2 linked regions of the Homo sapiens genome follow. The protein of the gene in region 2 purifies or fractionates together with the protein of the main gene of each other region. This does not show direct contact. Each region holds a gene or a part of one and is shown on either strand. Other genes may lie near its edges. The genes, in order: FAM98A and PINX1.

Region 1 (16,495 bases), on a different chromosome or scaffold from region 2:
ATGACCCTGAGTCCAAAATAATGTTCACTGAAGTCTGCTTAAGAAACAGAAAAGTGTGAAAGGCATTTTATACTTACATTCAAGTGGTTTGTATAAGTATCAGTGCTAAAAAGGCCAAACTCTGAGCTCTTTGGAAGAATTAGCTATTCAGGGTCATTAGTAAGCATTCCACACAGCTATTATCTTCCTATGTAGATAACATATTCTAAGTGCCAAATATTGGTAAAGGATAAGCAATGCTATAAAGGAAGAATCAGCTGAGTATACTGCTATTGAATCAGTTACAGAAATTGTACAATATGAAGAATATTAAATGAATATGTAAGAACTACCAGCAGCAATATCAGTATCTAAAGCAACACCTAACCTTACGTGCACATTCCCACAATAACAATCATTTGACAGACAAAGGGGAAGTTACAAAAGTGATTCTGGAATAACTTAGTGCCTAAGTATAATGGCTATGAACACTTTTTTTTTTTTTAACAGAACCTTAAAAACTGAAGTTGTATAATTTTTTCAGAAACCATAATAGAGTTGTAAAAACAAAGATTTTAAAAATCCTCTGAATTGTCTGTCATAATGAGAACTATAATAGCCAGTTAACCAAAGCTTAATGTAAATGTGCTTCAGAATGCTACATAAATTCTGAGTTAAGACTATAGGTTGTATTTATTGGAAAGTTTATAGAAGGCAATAAAATTTTTGAATCTACTTACTGTTTTTCAGTGTGAAGAGACAAAACAGTAGTAAGTATGTAAAAAACATGGAAGGAAAGAACTTTTCATAAAAACTCATTTCTCAGAATAAGTACCAGAACAATGCAAGTATTATTCCAGAATATTTACAAACAAAACCAAAATCCCCAATTACCCAACCACAAAGAAATAGCAACAAGACAAAATACTTTAAATTACATTAACCATTAACTGTATCTACTATTATAAATGCTTACTCTCCTCAAAGAAATGAATTTCTAAACAAAATCTCCATTATTTCCATACTATCTTCCTAATATACTTAAAAATGTGCTTCTAGTCTAAAATGTAAGTTTAATGATCACACACTTGAGCAACACTCCAAAACTACCAGTGATCACATTAGGAGAAGCACAACGGCCTGAGTACCACTGAGGCTGAAATATTGAAAGAGTATCAGTTACAAAAACAATAATGCTACCAGTGCACACGTCTACCCTCAGCTCCTAAATTGGAAATTTAAGAAAGTTTTATTTTAAAATGAATTTTGAATTACATTCATAATGAAATAAACAAACAAAAAACCATGGTCAGTTTATTAGTCATGGAAAACATAAACAGAAAGTAATAGCTATATTCTAGTAGCCATGAACTTACTGAGCAAGAGGAGGCAGTTCTTCTGAATGAGAAGGCGCTTGGTCACATCCCCAGATGTCAGTGAAAGATACGGGCAGTTCATCTCCCCTAGTAGCCCACTCACCTCAAGCTGGAATTCTTCAGCTTCACTCGGACCTTTTAAGAATTAAAATAATCTTATTTAATGATAGTGATTATTTTTCCATTAGCATAACAATTATTATATATAATTGAAATTGTTAATAGGATTTTCATAACTTGAGTTTTTTCCCCTTCTAATTTATCCTTTCTTACACCACTGCAAAGTTTCTTCTTTTTTTTTCTTTTTTGAGATAAGGTCTCTGAGGCCTAGGCTGGAGTGCAGTGGTGTGATCAGGGCTTACTGTAACCTCAAACCCCTGGGCTTGAAGGATCCTCCTGTTTAAGTCTCCGGAATAGCTGGGCCTACAGGTGTATGCTACCATGCCTGGCTAATATTTAGAAAATTCTTTTGTAGAGACTAGGTCTCAGTATGTTGTCTAGGTTAGTGTCAAACTCCTGGCCTCAAGTTATCTTCCCACCTTGGCGTCTTCAAGTGCTGGGATTACTACAGGCATGAGCCACTGCTCCCAATCTAAAATTTTCTTTCTCAGTGTTCATTAGGTCATTCTCTTATTTGGGAGTCTTTAATGGTTCCCTAATTTCTCCCTCATCCAATCTGATTTTTTTCTGTCTGCTTTTAAAGATTCTTCATAGCTGCTTAGGTTTGTTCTTCCTAGCATATTCAGCTATAATCACCTACATTCCCTCCACAAATATTTCCTGTGTGTGCCAGGCCAGTCTCCTCACTGTCCCATGAATAGCCAGTCTTATTTCCACTCTGTGCCTTCATTTAAGTTATTCCCTGTGACAGATATGTCCTCTACTCTCTTCCCCTCTAGCAAATCCCACCCATCCATCAAAGCCCAGTGGCCTTGCTCCTTGATGAAACCTTCCTTGTACTTGGCTGAAACTTCACCCTCGTACTTGCTGATTTCCTCTCTCTGTGAACCACAAAGTGGTTCAGCATTTAAGTACTGTACTTGGCCGGGCACGGTGGCTCATGCCTGTAATTCCAGCACTTTGGAAGGCCGAGACGAGTGGATGGTTTGAGTTCAGGAGTTCGAGACCAGCCTGAGTAACGTGGCAAAACCCCGTCTCTAAGAAAAATAACAAAAATCAGCCAGTTGTCGTGGCACATGCCTGTAGTCCCAGCTACTAAGGAGGCTGACCTGGAGAATTGCTTGAACCTGGGAGGCAGAGGTTGCAGTGAGCCCAGATCGCGCCACTGCACTTCAGCCTGGGTGACAGAGTGAGATCTTGTCTAAAAACAAACAAACAAAAGGACTGTACTTATCTCCAGTTGTTTAATTTGTGCCTAACATTCTCAATTAGAAAAAATTTGAAGACAGCAAACATGACTTACAGTCTTGTATTCCCACAGCATATAAAAAAAGGTATAGAGTTCACTGGGTGAACCAAAGGAAAAACAAAGCTCTTTCTTCATTATTTTGATTGTTCTCTATTCACTATCACAAAGGGGAAGAAATTAACAAACTCTGAGAGAGTCACTTGATCACCTGAGTCCATTTTCTAATCTGTAATACAGGAAGCCTACATTATGAATATTTTGCAAACTGTGATCTGTGAGCCCTTGAGTTCCACAGAGCTCTTTTAGAGGCAGCTGGGAGGATGAGGAGGAAAGAGCTGGGCTAAAGGTACCTCGTCTCTACTTTGTTAGAATACCTTCTAACCTGTTTTACATGTTAGCTTCTGTATCATGTTTCATTTGAGAAAAAGGGGCTCCAGGTTAAATAGAGGTATCATCTAGTACTGGTGTTTTCAAAGGTTCCTACAGTCTCTCAAACATCTGGTCAAGAGGCAGTATAGCACAGTGTTCAAGCACACTGGCTCAGAACTTGACTACTGTTCTGGGGTTGAAACCAGGCTTCACCCCTACAGGTTGTATGACCTCAGGCAATGTATTTAAATTCTCTGGGCTTTCTTGTTAAAGGTATAACAGTAATAAAACCTGCCTCATAGGGTTGCCCTGAGGTTTAATGAGTTAACACATATAAAGTGTTTAGAACATAGTGAGTACACAATAAATGTAAGCTGTTGCTATCATTACTGTTACACTATACTCTCCTTAATAATTAGAACTGAATGCAACTAACACGTACACATTAAATATACCAGCATGCAAGCCATCATCCTCCACAAACTAACACAGGAACAGAAAAAAAACACCACATGTTCTCACCACTAAGTGGGAGTTAAAAAATGAGAACACATGGACACAGGGAGGGGAACAACACACACCAGGGCCTGTTGCGGGTTAGAGGGTGAGGAGAGGGAACTCAGAGGACAGGTCAATAGGTGTAGCAAACCACCATGGCACACGTATCCCTATGTAACAAACCTGCATGTTCTACACATGTATCCCGGAACATAAAGTTAAAAAAAAAAAAAAAAAAAAAAAAATTATATATATATATATACACACACACACACACACACACACATACATACACACATATATATATACACACATATATATACACATATATATATACACACATATATATACACATATATATATACACACATATATATACACATATATATATACACACACACACACACACACTAGCATGCAAGAAGGTGAGCTCTTCAAAACGTGATTATGTGGAAAAAAAGGAATTATATGTATAGCTCTCCATAAGGGTGGGTTAACAGGTGAGTATTTTCCTTGGTCTCCTATTATAGGTTTACCTACAGCAGGAAGGAACCAGATGGTAGAGTGGTAGGTTCCAAGCTTTTGCCTCTTTTGCAGTGTCGACAAACTAGTGCAACAGTGGAAACAAAATTGGTAAATGCAGAACAGCTCTCAGATCCATAAATTTGATTGTCCTGGATCTCACTGTGATGTATCTAACGATGCATTCTTATGATAAACAAAATGTCTTAACAAAGTGTTCTCTTTCTCCCCAAGCATAACAGAATAATAATGCATTTACTCTACATGCTATAGATGCTTCTAGAATCTGGTAATCCTAAAAGAAAAATATCCCAGTATCTAGTTCTAGCCATCAATCTAGGATCTTACATTTAACATCTTACAAAATATAGGAAGTTCATACATTCTATGCTTGTGGTCTCCATTTCTCTGTATCCCAGTAATAGGGTCTTTTCAGCATCCACGAATTTTTAAGTTACATGACTTTATTCTGGTATTTCAACTTCTGAATCACCTCTAAAAACAACGGACGGAAAAAAAATCTTGGCTTCTTTACAAATTTTTTACATTTACAAAAACTTGCAACTTTCAGCTTTAGTATTGATAATGTTCAGTTGACAATACCTCAATGTTATTTTTATACTTTGTACCTAAAAGTGAATGTTTACTTACTGTTAGTTGCTTGCACGTTTTCCTCTAGTTTACAGAGCACTCTTAATTCAGACACCAGCCAAGCACAGAGTTTGGTAAACTCGGGGGAACTGGCTCCAGCAGAGACTGCCTGAGAGAGCGCTCCATCTTCCAACAATGGGCCCTTGTAACTGGTGAGCAAGAAATTACATTTCAGAAGAAAATACAATCATACCTAATATATTACAGATAAAACATATCTATGTCTTATTTATATAAGCAATAATTTAATAAAGATAAGTTAGTACTTATCTTTATTTTAAATGGACAAATATAAACATAATTTAGAACTATACTGAACCATTACAAAAAGCAGCTAAATGGTAGCTGCATTTCAACCTTTCAAAATGTAGGTGAATATCTAACAGAATTGCATATACTACTAAATTATGTCAACTTCTGTACATTTACTAAAAGCTTCCATTGTAAAAAGATTTATTTTCTTACTGTAATTGAATTGAGTATTAAAAGCAAATTAACAAGTAATAGCTAATTATACTGTAACTTATTTCAGAAATAAAACTTAGGTTATCTTTTCTAAAAATTTTCCAGAAAACAACTAGATTATGTTTTTATTTTGAGATGAGGTCTTGCACTGTCACATAGGCTGAAGTGCAGTGAAGGCACAAGCCACCAAACCTGGCTTTTTTTTTATTTTTTATAAAATAGCCAGGGGTCTTACTATGTTGCCCAGGCTTAGTTAGGTTTTTAATGACTTCCTTTAAAAGTAAAAACTTTCCAGTTAACCATTTATATCATTTTTATAAATTTAATGCCAGTTAAGACTAGTAAGACATTCTAGTACCAAAGAAACGTCAGGTTAGGTTAATAAATATTGGCAGTTAATGAACTGGCGCATCTGAATCCTAATCCTTTGTAAGTGATTCCAATATAATTTTAAAAAATTTAAAAATGTTCAAACATTCATAAAAGATGACAGTCATAATGAACTCCAATCACCAATATTCTAAAATATAAGATTTCTGTCACTCCAAGTAATCTTAAATACATATTATTCAGATTGCTTTACATTCTCTTAAATATTGATAATAATGCTTACTTAAGATGATACAATAAATATGCTTAAGATAATATAATGTTTAGGCCAGGCGTGGTGGCTCACGCCTGTAATCCCAGCACTTTGGGAGGCCGAGGCAGGTGGATCACGAGGTCAGGAGACCAAGACGATCCTGGCTAACACGATGAAACCCCATCTCTAATAAAAATACAAAAAAATTAACCAGGCATGGTGGAGGGCGCCTGTAGTCTCAGCTACTCAGGAGGCTGAGGCAGGAGAATGGCTTGAATCCAGGAGGCAGAGCTTGCAGTTAGCCGAGATCGCACTACTGCACTCCAGCCTGGGCGACAGAGCAAGACTCCGTATCAAAAAAAAAAAAAAAAAAAGATAATATAATGTTGAGAACTACAGGTATGTTAGAGAAATGACAGTTCTCAAACCCTTTAAAATATGATTATAGGTTTATACAGTATATGCAACAAAATGAAAACAAATCATACATAAAAAAATGAGATCACATGTAGTCTGGCATCTAGATTTATAAACTATGTATTATTAGACACTGAAATCAAAAGACTAGGCCTAGAAGTTTCTCCTTGAGTTTCACATTTAGACTTCATTAGTTTATTCAACAAGTAGTTACTGAATTCCTACTGTGTGCCAGGTAAGAGATAAAAGATGACTATTTGCCAGGATCAGTGGCATACACCTGTAGTCCCAGCTACTCCGGAGCCTGAAGTGGGAGGATCGCTTGAGGCTAGGAGTTCGAGACCAGCCTGGTCACCAGAGCAAGACCTCATCTCTTAATAAATAAATAAATAGAAAAGGTAGTCATTTAATTCTAATATTTCTCAGTTAATCCTTTAAAAGTACATTTCAGTTAATTAAGGCTGACTTTTAATATTTGAATGCCACCAAACTAAGTAGTTAAGGTTAAAATTTATAACAGTTTTCAGAAAATCCATGGTTTACATTACACTCTATGTCAAGTAGTTATGTGATTACAATTACTACAGTAACAATTACTTGTACAGTACCCAAAAGAATAAAAAGTTAAAAAAAGGAGGGGGAAAAAAAAAGACAATAATGGGAAGAAACAGCATCCGTGGCCAATTCTTAAGTGACCACTATCCATGCAGAAAGACTACATTTAATAAGGTCTACCCCCTTCCTTTCATTCCACTCATTCCACTACAGTACTATAGTGTCATTTATTCCAGAAAGAAGCTTCTAGGATTTCATTTCCTTTCCCAGTAAAGGGACCCTCCTCAGGGCTCCTCACAGCATATTTTCCCAGTATCCTGTGAACCCCTCTTCCACCTCACCTTGTACTCTAAGGGCCTAACACTGCCACAAAGAAACTGTTCCTAAAAAAGTCCTAATGAATGAATGGTTTCATGTGTGAACAAGCGATTCAGTCTGAGATGTCAACTAAAGAGACTATTTTGCTGAATGACTTTAACATATGCCCTAATGAAAGAAAGAAGCCCCCTAAAGTCTGGAATATTTATAAAAATTCAGAGCAAGTTTCCAAGAAAAGAACAATAGTATTTCACTGTGACAAAGACAGATGATAAGCAAGACTACTTCGTTCCTAAAAATTTCTACTAGGGTAGTAAATTATTCAAATAGGCAGACTTTGGGAATCCTCAAGGTGTTTTTTCCTAAAGAAAGGTTTCTCTCAAAGGTTTCCTTGTCATGGAAAAACCTAAGAGAAAATTTTGATAAAGAACTTGTTACTTAGAAATACAGCTAGCTAAATCTGTACTTTGTTTTGATACCGTACCTGTAGGTAAGTATCTAACCATACAATTTGTTTCTGGAACCACATTTAGCCCAAGAGGGTCCACGTTCTCAAGTTTAATAGAGTACACTGATCTGGGTGACCCAGTGAGATAACAAACCCTATTTCCAGCTTCTAGATACTGATGAATTATGGTTGAATAAATATCAGGAGAAGGAGAGACACAATGCAAAACAAATACGCAGGTTCTTCGTGGGTGAAGACGACCCTGGTCTAATGGGGCTCAACGAGGCAGAGTATCACAGAGTCAAAGCAAACTGCTGGTGGTTCCCAGGGACGTGGTGATAGGTTAGATGCACAAGCGAGCTGGCCAGCGGAACAGATGCAGCGCCCATACAAGTGGCTTAGCGAAGCCTGGGTGCATGCAGAGATGACTGGGCAAAGGAGAAATTTTGAGAGAAGTGGGGTGGGGTAGGAGGAGGGGCTCAAGATGGGAGTAGGAAATTTGGAGAACAAGTAGGAAAGCAGAATCAACTTTGGCAACCTTTAGAGTTGAGGGGTTAAGGGGTAGGGCAGGAGGATGAAGCGAGGAGAGAAGCTCGGGGAGTGGGGGTGGCGAAAATCAGAGCCCAGACAATGACACGCATGACTGACAAACGCTGCGGGTAGCTCGCCTGCAGGGAGCACTGGGCAGGCCTAGGGGTGTTGGGATTGGAGGACCCCGAGCTAGCAGTGCAGACAGTGGACGTGGCATTGGGGGTGCCGGGGCCAAAGGGAAGCGACAGCCAGGAGCCACGGGGTGCGGCGTGGAGAGGCAGGTGTCTCAGACTGGGGCGCAGGAGGTGTTCCCAGGGGGCCGGCAGCGTGGGGCTTGGGAGACCCGTGCCCTGACAATCTTACCCTAGATCTTCCAACGACTCCAAGATGTCAGTCTCCATGAGGTCACACTCCATGCTACTGTGGTATTCAAATTTCCGAGTCGTCAGGCTCCCCTCTTCGCCGGCAACGCGTACACTCGCGCATGCGCGACTTCCCCGGAACTTCCAAATCCACAGCTGGCGCCTCAGCTCCCGCACTGCGCATGTCCGGAGCGTGCGCAAGAAACTTGGTCCCACTGACCGCCCCACCCCTGCCCACTAAAGAATTACAGGGCCCGCAGTTTTGCACATGCGCGTTACTGGATCGTGAAGCTAGCCGCCCAGAGAAGGGTAGGAGGACCGGCTGCGTGGCAGCTGGGCGTGGGGACCACGCGAAGGGGAGCGCTCTCGGCTCTCGTTATTGGGTGTACGCATGTGCGAATGTAGGGGGCGCGGCGGGCCGGGAAGGAGCTTGGAAGAGTCTCGGGACGCGGGTGGAGTCGGCTGTTAAACCGAGTCTCTGCATCCCAGACAGGAGATCGGGTGGCTCTTCGTAGGGTGCCGGCATGTGCTAGCCTTAGCTTGCAGGTCATGTAGAAAGGGAGAATTCTTGCGCTCCCGTCTTCAGGACGCGGGTGCGGGCCAAGTGCAGACGGCAGATAGCGTGCCATTTGATTTCCTCGTGGCTGCAGTAGCTTTATTTCAGGGTTAGGGATGAGCCAACTTTCCGCAGACTATGGATGTTCAGAAAGTTGGGTCGTTTTCCCTCATGCATTCTCTACCTGATGTCTAAAGCCCTTCCCAGACACTAAGCATGTTATTTTAAGGAGAAGGGGAGCTTCACTCCATAGCAAATAGAATAGAATATTTTTAAATCCACGTAGTTTAGACAGTGAATAAACTTTTTGGCTGTACTGTCATTACTTTTGACATTATTTGCCCGGGTGAAACATTGAGTTCACGATGTGGATGTGTTGTGATATCTTGGCAGTTACTGAGGGTGTGTTTAGAAATTACTGAAAAATCAGAAATGTTTTCAAAGTGATGGCATATTTAGAAAACTATATTTAACCATAAGTTGGCGTACTGTTAAATCGTGTAGGCATTTAATTAAAGAGTTTTCATATTGATACCTGTTGATTTTATTCTATAGTTCTCAAGCATTTTTGTGTCTGATGGATAGATGTTCCTATCCTTAGTAGTACCTTTTTCTTTTCTTTCTTTTTTTTTTTTTTTTTTTATGAGACGGAGTCTTGCTCTGTCGCTCAGGCTGGAGTGCAGTGGTGCGATCTCGGCTCACTGCAAGCTCCGCCTCCCGGGTTCACGCCATTATTCTGCCTCAGCCTCCCAAGTAGCTGGGACCACAGGCGTTCACCACCACACCCAGCTAATTTTTTGTATTTTTAGTAGAGACGGGGTTTCACCATGTTAGCCAGGATGGTCTCGATCTCCTGACCTTGTGGTCCGCCCACCTTGGCCTCCCAAAGTGCTGGGATTACAGGCGTGAGCCACCGCGCCCGGCCAGTAGTACCTTTTTCAGTTTCCTTATTTTGCATCATCTGAAGTGGGGGTAGGTTTTCTGCACTTACCATGGGCACTTGATATGGCCCATTATGATGCAGTCACCATAAGGCTGTGTGAATATTAGTCACATTCTACAGATGAGGACACTAAGGCTGAGTGGCTTAATAATCTTCAGCGATCTTAATGCCTGTAAGTATGAAACTAGATTTTGAGATTGAGGTATATCTAAATCCATATTCCTTCTTTTTTGACTAGTCAAATAAGGATTTATACGCAGGATGTGAAAAGAGGAAAATTTAGCTAGTTGAATTTGTTTAAACTTGTATATATTGTACATAATTACCTTATAATAATTGAATAATTATTTTCCTCATAGGGTTGTTGAAGGTGCTAAACAAAAAGTCATGCCTAATACAAAAATCAATTTTGAAAGAAAAAGGGTTTCATTCTTGACTCACTTTTGATGTAAGCTGTGTTCAATATTGAACTAATATTGAATATAATATTGTGTTCAATATTAGTGAATGAACGAGTGATGACTTCCCTAAAAGTATTAGTATTCCCTTTCTTTCTTTAAAAAAAATCCAGCTTTTGCAGGAATAGTATTCTCTTTCTAATTCACATCGTTAGCTTAAATGAAGGATTGCTGATATGAAATTTTTATATATTATGGTTTAAAGGAATTCTACAATGGCTTTCTCTGCAATTAAAAAAAGCTTTTAAATACTACTTAAACAAAATTGTGTTCCCTACCAGGCAGGCTCAGAAAGAAAGAAAAAAAATTGTCATCATTTTAATGGGATCTACGAGGAATCTTTTGCATTTTATTTAGAAATTATTTATGTTTATAATGGAACCTGATATCTGAAGACCTCTTTGAAACTGAGTTTACTAGAATGAAAGGAACAATGATTTGGAAGTGAGGAAGCTCTGGTTTTTGCATCAGATCAGTATAAGAAAGAATTTTTCTAACACTCTAAGAGTAGTCTTAAAGTGACTTAGGTATCGTTGAGAGATGATGAGCTTCCTGTCTAGAAGGTGTTCACCTAGAGGCTGAATAATTACTTAAGGGTACTCTTGTGAGAAGGCACACCCACAAGTGCCAGCACATGCCCTTTTACTGATGACTTTGATTCTAGATTCTTTCTCAAAAAAGAATATAAAATACCAACTTAAAACCCTTCTAGGGTCTGGCGCGGTAGTTCAGACCTGCAATCCCAGCACTTTGGGAGGCTGAGGCAGGACGATTACTTGAAGCCAGGGGTTCAAGGCCAGCTTGAGCAACATAGCAAGACTCTGTCTCTGTTAAAAAAAAAAAAATTAATTAAAAATGACTTCCAGGTGGGACCCAAGTGAGGCAGAGGGGCAGGGGCTGGCAGACCAGCGGTAAGCATGGCATATCAGGGCCTCACCATACGTCTCATTGCAATGAGCGTGTTTTAGGGCTTCACTGGTTTCTTCATGCCTTGGTTCATCCCTAAGGGTCCTAAGTAGGGAGTTATCATTACCATGTAGGTGACCTGTTCAGTTTGTTGCTGTCTCTTTTGGCTGATTGCAATCCTGGCCAACTCAACCCTCTCTTCAGACTGCAGTTGAAACATGAAATCATCTGGTATCCGAAGTGTCATTGGCCTTGAGGAAGACAGGCTTTACAGTGCTCAGTCTTAGCAGTCATGAGAAAAGAATTCCTTCTAGATGCAAAATCCAAACCACACCACTTTTCTTGACTTGCTTATTTTGGGCATCAGCTGCCTTAAACATTCACACCACATTTGAATGTCTAACACAATGCAGCATTTTTTTCTTCAACTTTTTTATGCTTTAATGAATTATGTGCCTACTTAACCTAAACTGTGCCAACTCCTCAAAATGATAATGCACTCTTTTGAGAGAGAAGATGCTTTTCTTCTGAGAAATGTGTTATTATGTCCTTGGAATTTGTGGATTTGTAGTGGCTCCTGCCTTCTCATAACATGGGAATCAGTGAACTATTTAGAACGTACTACTGCCTGACAAGACTCCAGTGGGGCAGTCAGTAGGAGAGGACGTTCAGAGGAAAGAGCTCTCCCAACAGAATTACACCAAATTATGTGTTCTTTTTTTTTTCTTTCTTCCTTTTTAAACAGAGTTTTGCTCTGTCGCTCCCGCTGAAGTGCAGTGGTGATCTCGTAGCCTCAACCTCCTGGGCTCAAGTGATCCTCCTGCCTCAGCCTCCCAAGTAGCTGGGACTGCAGCCGCTGGCCACCATGCCTGGCTAAGTTTTTTTATTTTTTGGTAGAGACGGTTTTGCCATGTTGCCCAGGCTGGTCTCAAAATCTTGGGCTCAAGCAATCCGCCCACCTTGGCCACTGCACCCCGTCATGAGCCACCACATCCGGCCCAAGGTATATTTTCAGCATGAATTTCTCATTTCTGCCATCTTTTGGAATAAATCATTTTTCTGTTTTCTATAGATAAAATAAAATATAAAATAAAGCTATTCTAGTGTCCCATCTTTGAGGGAGTCTGGTTACTGTCCATATTCTTAACTGCTGCTGCTACAGATTACCACAAATTTAGAGGCTTAAAACAAGACAGATTTATTATCTTACAGCTCTGGAGGTCAGACACCTGAAATGGATCTCACCTGGCAAAAATGGGCAGGTTTGCATTTCTTCTGGAATCTCTAGGAGAGAATCTGTTTTCTTCCCTGTTTTGGTTTCTAGAGGCCACCCACCTTCCTTGGCTTATGACTCCCCTCCTTCATCAAGACCAGCAACACCACTCCGACCCCTGCTACATGGTAGTCATGCCCTCTTACCTTCCTGCCTCCCTCTTTTACTTATAAGGACCCCCATCCTTGTGCCAGATAATCCAGAATAATCTCCCAACCTTAAGATCTTCAATTTAACCACACCTGCAAAGTCCCTTTTTCCATAGTCTCATGTTCCAACGATTATGATGCAGATAGTTTTCGGGGGAGGGGGGTCCATACCACACTGCCTTTCCTGGAGAGTAGAAACAATGAATGATCTTAAAGATCAGCCTTTTCTAGCTCTTCTTGAAGAGAATAAAGACAAATTATTTTTTTCACTTGTGAAAGAAATGTAAATGGGAAAATTGAAAACTGATTTCAGTTTCCAGAGGAACATGTTTTATAAGTCATAACCTTAAAAATTATTAGAAGGTTTTTAATTATATAGTAATTAAAAATTTATGCAGCTGACATCTTTAAGAAAGTTACTTCTAGCATCTATAGAAGTAATTTTTTATCATGGAAAAGAGGTAGGTATAAGCTCAAATATAAGATTTGTCATGGATTGGTTTCTAAGAGGTGATTAAATAGGCATCTAAAACAAATAACTTTTCTATCAAAAATAAAAGAACACTGTCTGAAAAATAGCAGCATTTTCCATTTTTAGTGAATTTATCTTTAGAATGACCCTCCAGCAAGGAGAAAATAGAAAGACCATAGATTTACTGGTGTTGCTCAGAAATGCAAGTTTGTATATGTTGCTAAATAAAGTCCTTTTCAGCTTGCACAGTGAAAGCACAACTCTTTTTTTTTTTAAGTTAGCATGTAGAATTAAATCTTGTATGGTCTCAAATACTTTATATTACTAAAGAATGCTGTTTTTTCAAATCATTCCTCTGGCTATGTTAGTATAGTTTCTGAGCCCTGGCAATTTTTAGAGAATATTACAAAGTTTGAGAACAACATCTTGCCTGTGTTTAAACTAAACAAAGGAAGTGCTATGTGTGTGAATGTACGTGTGTATATATATATATATATATATATTCACACACACACATTCACACACACAAATGTGTATATATATACAAAAACACACACAGAGATATATCCAGATCTTTCCAGAATAAAAGCTCCAAATTTGATTTCTGTTGTTCTCCCAACAAAGCTTCAGCCTAGTTGCCATGTTCTGCAATCAGGCACACAGTGAACCAGATAGAAACCCATCTAATTTGGATGCAGTAAGAGCTTATTAGACTGTAGCCTAGAGGTAATAAACTAGCCTTCACACCAGACCAAGCGTTGTATTTTGTTTGGCCTGTTTAATAAGTTAAAGAACTGAGCTTACATTTAAAAGTTTGGAGATTTTATTTTAAAAATCTGAGTGTCTGGCTTTTCTGGGGCGAAAACGTCTGCTGATTTGGCAGCATTGGAGGAACCTCATTGCCCATAAAGGCAATGATTGGCTTGGGTTGAGCAGGTTGCCCCTTCAACATGGGGTATGGATCTACCAGTTCCCTCTGTTTTCTGGACCCTGTAAGTCACACATTATGTCATATGTGTGAACATCCAGGCATTTATTTGCCCTGCATTATGGTTTGGGATTTCCAACCTTGTTTAGTCTTTTACTTGTTAAGCAGGTCTATCACTTTTTCTACCCTGTCTCCCATGGGCCTCTCCTCCTTTCTCTGCCTATTCCAGTCTCATGGAACTCCTCCTGGTCACTTAACATAACTTGCCCTTTCATGCCTCTATACTTTTGTACAGACTTTGCCTGGAATCCTGTTTCCCTCATTCGTCTGCCTGGCAGATTCCTCCTGCTCAGTCTTTGAGACTCAGTTTGGGAGAAGCCTTCTCTAACTGCCTTGGGCACTCATTCTCTCCTCCCAAGCCTTCCTTAGCATTTTGGCACAGGCAGCTTCAGGTGAGCACACGTGTAAACCCTCTGCTCTGTCAGCTACTTAGTTCACATCTTACCCTGTCCTCATGTCACAGGCCGACTAGTTCTTCTTGCCCGCTGCCCTAAAAGAACCAGTGAGAACCGGTATTGCAGCAAAGAAAGAGTTTAGTAATCGTAGGTCTGGCCAAGCAATAACAGGGAGAAATTTCTCAAATCTGTCTCCCTGATAATTCAGAGGCTAAGATTTTAAAGGGTACTTTGACTGACAGGGGGCTGGGGACCTGAAACAATTGACTGGCTGGGGTGAAATCACAACAGTGTCTGTAACTGTCTTCATGCAGCTTAGTCTGTTCTCAGGACCAGGTGGTACTGAAGTGCTGAATCTAAAAAATATCTCAGTGACCCAGTTCTTTAGGGTTCATAATAGTAAGGTTATAGGAGTAGTAGAGGAAGTTATAAATGTTGTGGCCCCAGTTACGTGACTCTGGGTCAGTTAGCAACTTGTAGGAAAACACATTAAGCAATGGCAGGTAATTGTTTATGCCAATTTTTCTTTTTTCTTTTTTCTTTTTTTTTTTAGATGGAGTCTCGCTCTGTCGCCCAGGCTGGAGTGCAGTGGCGCAGTCTCGGCTCACTGCAAGCTCCGCCTCCCGGGTTCACGCCATTCTCCTGCCTCAGCCTCCTGAGTAGCTGGGACTACAGGCGCCCGCCACCACGCCCGGCTAATTTTTTGTATTTTTAGTAGAGACGGAGTTTCATTGTGTTAGCCAGGATGGTCTCAATCTCCTGACCTCGTGATCCACCCGCCTCGGCCTCCCGAAGTGCTGGGATTACAGGCATGAGCCACCGCACCCGGCCTAACTATGCCTATTCTTTAGCAAAGTTCAAGCTCCTACCATAATTTTACCCGTGTCTTAAGAATGTGGCTTCAATCTCTGGATAGTGTGTGTGGGCATGGTAGGATAAGGCAGAGGCAGGGGGGAGTTAGTTTCCCTTGCCTCCAAGTTTAACTATAAACTAAATTCCTCTCATAGTTATCTTGGCCTCTGTGCTAGAATAAATAAAAAAGCAATTTAGCCTGTGAGGTTAGAAGCAAGATGGAGTTAGCCCTGTTAGATTTCGCTCATTATTTATAATTCTGCAAAGGTGGTTTCACTCAGGCCCCATCTCAGCTTCACTGCTCCACAAAAAAGTTGTTCTCTGATAGTACTGGTTAAAATTAATTTTCCTCTCTTCTGCATTTCTGAGGTAGCGGTGCTTAACTTGATTGAGTAGCATAACAACCTGGCAGACTTAAATGCAGATTCCTGGGCCCTGCCTCTGATGAGTCTATGTCAGCATTTCTGATATTATGGCATTCTGACATAGCACAGCAGTTATGGGGTGGGGTTTCTATATTTCTTTTCTTTTTTTTCTTTCTCTCTCTCTTTCTTTTTTTTTTTTTTTTCTGAGACGGGGTCTGGCTCTGTTGCCCAGGCTGGAGTACAGTGGGGCAATCTCAGCTCACTGCAACCTCTGCCTCCCAGGCTCAAGTGATCCCTCCACCTCAGGCCTCCCGAGTAGCTGGGACCACAGGTACACGCCACCATGCCCAGTTAATTTTTTTTTTTTTTTGGTAGAGATGGGGGTCTCACCTTGTGTCCAGGCTGGTCTTGAACTTCTGGGCCCAAGTGATCGGCCCGCCCTAGCCTCCCAAAGTGTTGGGGATTACAGGCGTGAGCCACCGTGCCTGGCTGGAATCTGTATTTCTTAGTACCACTTCAGATAGCTTCATAAGTAGTCTTTCATAATTTATCATTTATTAGTGTTTTATTTTTATGTTGCTTATTTCATGTGTTGTGATCTTTTCTCTCCAGTGGTTGTAAAACTGTAACCACCTAATGGGTTCTCCTTGCCTGCTGCCCAGATAGAGCTGACTTATCAAGGCAGGGACATTGCA
Region 2 (7,000 bases):
CACTGAGCATGGCTAAGTGCAGGAAGTAGATCATGGAAACGACAATCGGCCTTTAGCACTGGGTAGTGACCCCTGCAGATCTGAGCAGCCTCAGCATCAAACGGAGAGACCATGTGGTCTGTACACACGATATTCCACTCCTAATCAGACGATTCTGTCGGCAGCTGTGATTGTCAGGGTCACGGGCGGTGTTGGAGGGGTATGCAACTATGATTGGGGTTAGCACAAGGGAGGCCTTGGTGGTAATGAAATAGTTCAGGATCTTCACTGAGATAATAATGGTTACACAATCCACAAATGTGATAAAGGGGCACAGAGCTGTATGAGCAGATGGTACCAATGCCAATTTCCTGGTTTCATCATGCTGTACTGTAGTTACGTAAGATGTAACCACTGGGGAAAACCAGATGAAGGGTACACAGAACCCCTTTACTATCTTTGCAACATCCTGTTCATCTATAAAAAGTTAAAGAAAAAACCCTCATGACTATTAATCAAGGGCTGCAGATGTTTCTTAGATATAAATACATTCAGATCATCCAGTTCAATAGAGAGACGAAAAAATACACAAGCAACACAACATCTATGCTCCAGATGCTCAAGCTCTTTCTTAATTCAGCCTCCAGCCAATAAGGAAGTCAAGTCGTTCTTCAGGCTGGCCTGGACACCTGGTCACATGCTTGTCAACCCCTAACAGCTCACCTCTGACTACAGGTAAGGTAAAGAAGTTTTGAAATTTAAACCATTATTTTCCACAAAATAGCAACAGCCAATCATTTTCCCACAAAGTTACGATACAGCATCAACCACTGGTGTCTCTGGTGAAGCTCAACAGAAGCTGCTAAGGCCTAACTAACCCCCTTCAATGTAGATTTTTTGTTAAATGAGAAAGAGTTCATTAACTTCGGCAGGACTGCTGTATTATCGGAGAAAGGCTGATTTTGGAATTGGACGGACACAGATTTAAAAGCCCACGTGTGCCATTTTGGAGCATTCTAACAATTCTCTCTGTGCCTCAGTTTCCTCACTGCTACAGAGGAGATACTGATATTTACATGACGGGATTGCTGTGAGGATGAAATGAGAAAAATCCAGCACAGGGTTTGGCACACAGGTGCTTAATAAAATTGGAATTCTACGATGGCAGTCAGGAGCTGTAGAAATTAAAATCAGTAGGCTTCCCTTATTGCAAGGGTGATGCTGTTACCCAAGCCAAGAACATGGTTAACGCCAACGTTCTGGAACTCTGGATGCTGAAGACAGATCAGCATCGGCACCTAACTAGAGCACCCACAGAGCTACTGCTACCTTAGTGGCCCGCACTACCACGGTTTCCAGGACTCTGGAGGGAGGTGACCTCCAGCAACACCTTGGCCTCTGCAATGCCAAATATAAATCCAGACCGACGGAGCTATGAGAGTCAAGCGAAGCAACAACATACAACATTCCCGCCAACTGAGGATGGGAGCCGAAAGAGGTTGTATTTTCAAACAAATCTGATCAAAGTCCTCCTGCCTTTGACTATAAGGGCTGTTGTAACTAACAAGGTTAAGGTTTCTTAGCAATAGTCTACTCAAGGAAGGTACCGGTATACCTCAATAAAAGCAAACTTAACATATGAACATCCACAAGGATGTCAAAGATAAATGTAGAGGTCATTTTGCTTTATAGAAAGATACTCTGTTTGTCTTAAATGTGATTACATTTAAATAGATTCTGTTTTCTGCACACATGCAGGCATGTCAAAAGGAAAATACTGCCTAGACGCGACCTCCTCAGTGTGGCACACAGGTCAGCAGCAGTATCACCTGGGGGCTCCTCGGATGGGGATGTACAGGCTCTCAGCCCCCGCCCAGGCTTCCTGAGTTGGAATCTGCAGTTTGACAGGGAAGACCTGTACACACGGCAGGACTTGAGGAGCTCTGTCCTCAGGGTTACTCACGACCCGGAAGCCAGAAGCTCTCAGTACAGCTGCATGGCAGGCTATCCCCGTGTTCTCAACCCTCGCTCCTTACTGAACGTCAGAATAACTGCTGCAACAATTGGGGAGGAATTAAAAAAAAATTTTTTTTAAATTTTTCTCCTTTTGTAATATAGATACCTGGACCCTGACCGAAGATTTAATTTAATCGGTCTTGGGCAGAACCCTGGCATTAGCATTTGTTTAAAGCTCATTAGGCAATGCCAGGACGACCTTGTTGAGAACTATGGCTACAGACGGAGAGCAGGGCCTGGTAGAAGACCACCTCACCAACAGGTAGGACCTAAATTTATCACTGGAAGAAAACACTGAACTGGAAGAGAGAGAGAGATGTGACTAATGGAAATCTCACACAAAACACGATGTTGCATCAAGGTTGATCATCTCTACACACACTGGACCAAAAGAGATTTTCCTGGGGCTAGCATTAGGGAACTGCTTTTGAAGCTCCTCAAACACAGGTGGATGTCTCACTTTAACATGACTTAGCTACCAAAGAGTCAAGTAACACCACACAGTGTTGAAAACCTCAAGGCACCCAACACCCAATAAATTCTCAAACAGAAATCTGCCAGAGGATCAGAAACCTCTGATCTCTTACAACTAAGAGCTTTCTGCACCAAACACATAAATTCTCTTAAAGTTCTACAAAAGCCCACAAGTAACATTTCCCTCCCTGATCTGTTCAACTGTACATTTTCATAGAGGGTGTCCGGGAGGGCAAAGGCTGGGGGTGGTGGGTGAGCAGCAGGCAGAAGAGAGGATCAACGTGCAGGGATGTGGAAACGCCAGTACAGAAGGCACGTGAGCCCCACGGGGCTGGGGAGATGGGGGTTATCTCAAGGTATGGGAGGGACGTGGAGTTGATACAAAGGCTCAGGGTGTGATCGTGGGGTGGGGGCAGCTGTTGGGCAGAGCAAAGGAGATGGAGTTCAAGAGGCGCGGGACTGGAATTCTAGTTCTTCCTGAGGACACGGAGACGACTGAGAGAGTCAAGGAAGAGGGGTTGGAGAGGAGGCTGGGATAAGCCAGAGGCCATGTCCTTGGTGAACAAGGAAGAGTGGCGTAGTCCAGGTCTCACGGTGAGCACTGAGGGCAGAGGTACAACCAGAAGCCAGCCTGTCTGACCATGGCTCTTTCCAGCAGCCCCTTGTGAAGGAGCAGCCGGCACGGCCGGATGTCAGAGCGGCTCCTCCCTAGTGACCACTGCCTATCCCGTGACTCAGCATAGTCCGCGCAGGCACCAAAGCCAGGTATCCTTTCCCAGCCTGCTGCTTCCATCTGCTGAGGGTGCAGGGGCAGACAGGGGCTAAAAGACCCAGGAATTCAGTCCCAATCTGCACAGGGAATCATCTAATGAGACTTCTAACCACTGGTAATTCTGGACTCCCTAAAAATTATTACTATTAAGAAACAAACCACCACCCTAGAAATAAAGATTTCTGTCAGTCTGGAAAAATGCCAGGAATCAATAAACCAAGTCTTCTTTTTTGTTCTATGGTCACCAAGGGCCCTGGCTACAAACCAATAAAAGATCATCAGTACAACATACCAGATTAGCTGAGTAACAGTGGTCACAACCATATATTCCAGATTTTCTCAGACAATGCCAGTTCTAAATACTTTTAGCCTGTTATCTTTAGAAATCCATAATCCTAATATATCTCAAACTATATCCAGGGCTGTCTCTTACACTTCAAAACAGCACAAAAAATTCTTTGCAATATTATACAGCCCAATTTAATAATTAGAATAAATTATGGAGTTCATTCCATTGAGGGTGTAGTTTAGTCACCCCATTCTTTTCTTCTAGTTGTAAGGCAAATAATATTGTATAATAGAGGAAATACCCATCAAACCCCCTTATAGATGGTGCTGATCTAGCGCTGTCTCAAATGCTGTTAGAATGGGACAGGCTGGTTCTAGAGAATGAAGGTGACATGCTTCCTCCCACCTCCATTCCAAGTGGAGTAATGCAGTTTGAGCAGAACAGACAAAATCCCTCCCCTTCTCGGCCATGGAAGAGATATTTTCCCCTCTGATTGTATCGGCAATGGGTGTTCTTCCCCAAGTTTAATCTAGTCCTCACACCAAAACAAAAAGAACAAAAGCCAAACACCAGAAAACACTTATTCTTTTTTTTAAAGATTCCTTATAAAACATTATCTACCCACTAATATTATGAAAAGGATCATATCTAGGCTGTGCATGAAGCCTCCAAAGTGTTTTGGAAAGTTTGTCAGAAAAGTACTAGTCATAGATAGAAACAGTCCTATACACAGGTGAAAATCAGACAGTATTAAAGCGGAACACGGAAACTGTACGTGGCTTTATACCTCGGGAGTCTTCTTACTCTGTCTTTTCCCAAAAATGCAGTCAAGATCTGTTTTGCTCCGAGATGACAGATCCTTCCCTAGAAAAACAATGTGATGCTTTTCAGTAAGACTGTTCTTCCTAAAAGAAAGAGCGCAGACATGAACTATGCAGCACCTCAAAGGAAAATGGCTTTTGGGAAAGAAAGAAACAATTTTGAAACTACTGACTTTCTACCCACTTTTTCATTACAACTCTTTCATTAGTAAACAAAATTAATTAAATTTTAAAACCAAGTAAATGTTTTAGAACCAGAACTCTTGACATTCTCTTAATTGTAGAAACAACCTAGAGCATACTGACTGCAAGGAAAGCTAAATTCTACAGCTCACCCTACTCCCGCTATGCCCTCAAGATGCAATTCCTGGGTCTCTGGGTTCTTCATTTAAAAATAGATCTCATTTGCTTCAGAGACATGAGCTACTTACTTAGAAGATTACGAAATACACATGAAAAAATATCACTAGATACACAGCTCCAGACCCCACATATGCACATGAATGAGAACGTATCATATTTGACACACAGGATCTTAATAATTAACTCAACAAATAAAAATTTTAAAAGAATATATGTAAATCAAAAATACTGTAAAAGGGTGACAGGGTTTCAGATTTTTCTTCTTAAAATGTTCTTTACTGCTCTAGCTATATTGTCTCTAAATAAAAAGCTACATAGGGAGAGTAGGAAATTAAATGGCTCTATGGTTCTTATTTAAAACACTAAACTCTTTAATTTCAAACCCCCAAACCAACTAATTTAAAATTCACTTCTTTGGAATTTCCACTTCTACCCAATAATCCTCTGTGAGCAGTAGGCCAAATCTAGTCCCATTTGTCAACGGCATGGTAAATGCATTTTAAAATGTAACTACTCCATGTAAAGGCTTGAGGCTCTGGGCGAGGGAGGTTCTGGGTCAGACACAGGAATGTGAGTCTCACGCTGGAAGCCGAGTTCCACCGTCACAGACTCACTTGTCTTCTTGGTTTCCTGTAGCACACTGCCTTGGCAAAGTAATGTCATGACCCAGAAGGTTCTAGTTCACTATCACTGGGGCACTTAAATATGATATTGCTCAGTGACTCCGTGAAATTAAAAAAACAAAACACTCTTCAATTTAATGCAAAACCAGGTGCCAAAACCAGTTTCCTAGGCAGCAGTACCAGATGAAGTGGCCCAGGCGGTATGACCTGTTCCTGCCAGGAGGGCAGGCTCCTCTGGGCTCTGGCTGCTGCTCTCCTTCCTACCTGAGCTTGACACTAAGCCCTCCTGCTTTTCATTTATGATTAAATAGGACCTACACAAAAAGACCCAAAAGAAAACCTACTTAAGAATAGACGATGCACACCACAGATACGGCAGAAAATGAACCGGGAAAGTGGGGAAGAAAACTGGTTGTAGCGGGAAGAGGTGGACAAACTCATCGGAGGTGTAGAGATGTCCTCACAGCTTTGCTGCCAGCACAACCCATTTTCCAATGCAAAGCACAGTTTGTACTTCAGAAAAGGCAGCTGTACTTAATTCAAAATGTGTACTGGCCATCTATCCCTAACCTATCCTCTGGAATAGAGACACTCTAGAAAATGCAAATTAAGGTCTCTTCTATAGCAATTTGACTAAAAGGAATGCTGGAGGGATTAAGGAAGAGAGGGTACATGCGAGATCACAGTTCTAAAACATGATGTCAAAATGTGAACACACAGATTCAAAACAGATCTGAAAGTCAAAGGGAAAACTGTCAAGCTGGTAGAGACAGTAAGCTATATCAATGAAGGTGCAAATGTGTCTAAAGTTTTGATGATGGATTCTTGTATCAGAAATTTTTAGCCTTTAGCAAAGTTCACTTAAGTAAATGTAGAAACCAGGATTGTTACAGGCCTTGCTCTGGATTTGATCTGGAAAACAAGAACACAGAGAAGAAAGAAGAGTCAGAGACCAGTGGAAAGGAACATAAAAGGTGGACAAAAAGGTGAAGATGGAAGTGACCTTGAGATAGTTACTAATTAATGGTCCTGATGGAAAGCTTATAAACACCAGGAAATTATGGCCGCTTTTGAATAAATACGACAAATTTAAAAAGCATTTAAAAAGCTTATTTGTTTGAGTTCTGAATTATGGTCAAATCATACAAAATACTGTTGATAAACTTAGAGAAAACGACAATGAAGAAAACTGAATAGGAAACATCTATCTGGATTTGGTTCATCTATTAGTCTTCAATGCGTAACATTTCCAGAACCAGTAAGAAAGGCCTCCAAGAGTCAAACTGAAAGTTCCTGCAAGGATGAGCAGGTACTTTCAAGGAAGAACACTCTATTTAGGTTTGCTTTAGCTGTTTGTCTAATAATCATGATTATCAGTTTCCCAGTCTATCAGAGTAGCTACTGGGAAGGGAGGAACATTACTGCTATAGTCAGACACATTTACAATACCAAGAAATACACATGGGAGGCAACTAAAACTTTCATTGACACGAGAACTTAGGAATCAAGATGATTTGGAAACAGTTTAGCAATAACCCAACAAGCTGTATTAGAACTGAGGCTCAAAAAACCAACTCTATGGAAAAGCAGAGTTGAGCTGCCGAGAGTAAAGAAGTGAAGGGCAAGGAATATGTTTGCTAAAATAAAAAAACACTTAAGGTTT

The links.
Region 1: the proteins of PINX1 (region 2) and FAM98A purify together in Homo sapiens (affinity purification with mass spectrometry; 2 studies listed by BioGRID and IntAct, with this or other methods). This does not show direct contact.

What each region holds. Positions count from the first base shown.
Region 1 is NC_000002.12:33,590,725-33,607,219, forward strand, and holds the start of FAM98A (protein FAM98A), read right to left. Parts: upstream 8,576-16,495; 5' UTR 8,498-8,575; coding exon 8,445-8,497; intron 4,914-8,444; coding exon 4,765-4,913; intron 1,491-4,764; coding exon 1,356-1,490; intron 1-1,355. UniProt on the Homo sapiens protein: Positively stimulates PRMT1-induced protein arginine methylation. Involved in skeletal homeostasis. Positively regulates lysosome peripheral distribution and ruffled border formation in osteoclasts.
Region 2 is NC_000008.11:10,815,876-10,822,875, forward strand, and holds part of PINX1 (PIN2/TERF1-interacting telomerase inhibitor 1), read right to left. Parts: intron 4,395-7,000; coding exon 4,318-4,394; intron 1-4,317. UniProt on the Homo sapiens protein: Microtubule-binding protein essential for faithful chromosome segregation. Mediates TRF1 and TERT accumulation in nucleolus and enhances TRF1 binding to telomeres. Inhibits telomerase activity. May inhibit cell proliferation and act as tumor suppressor.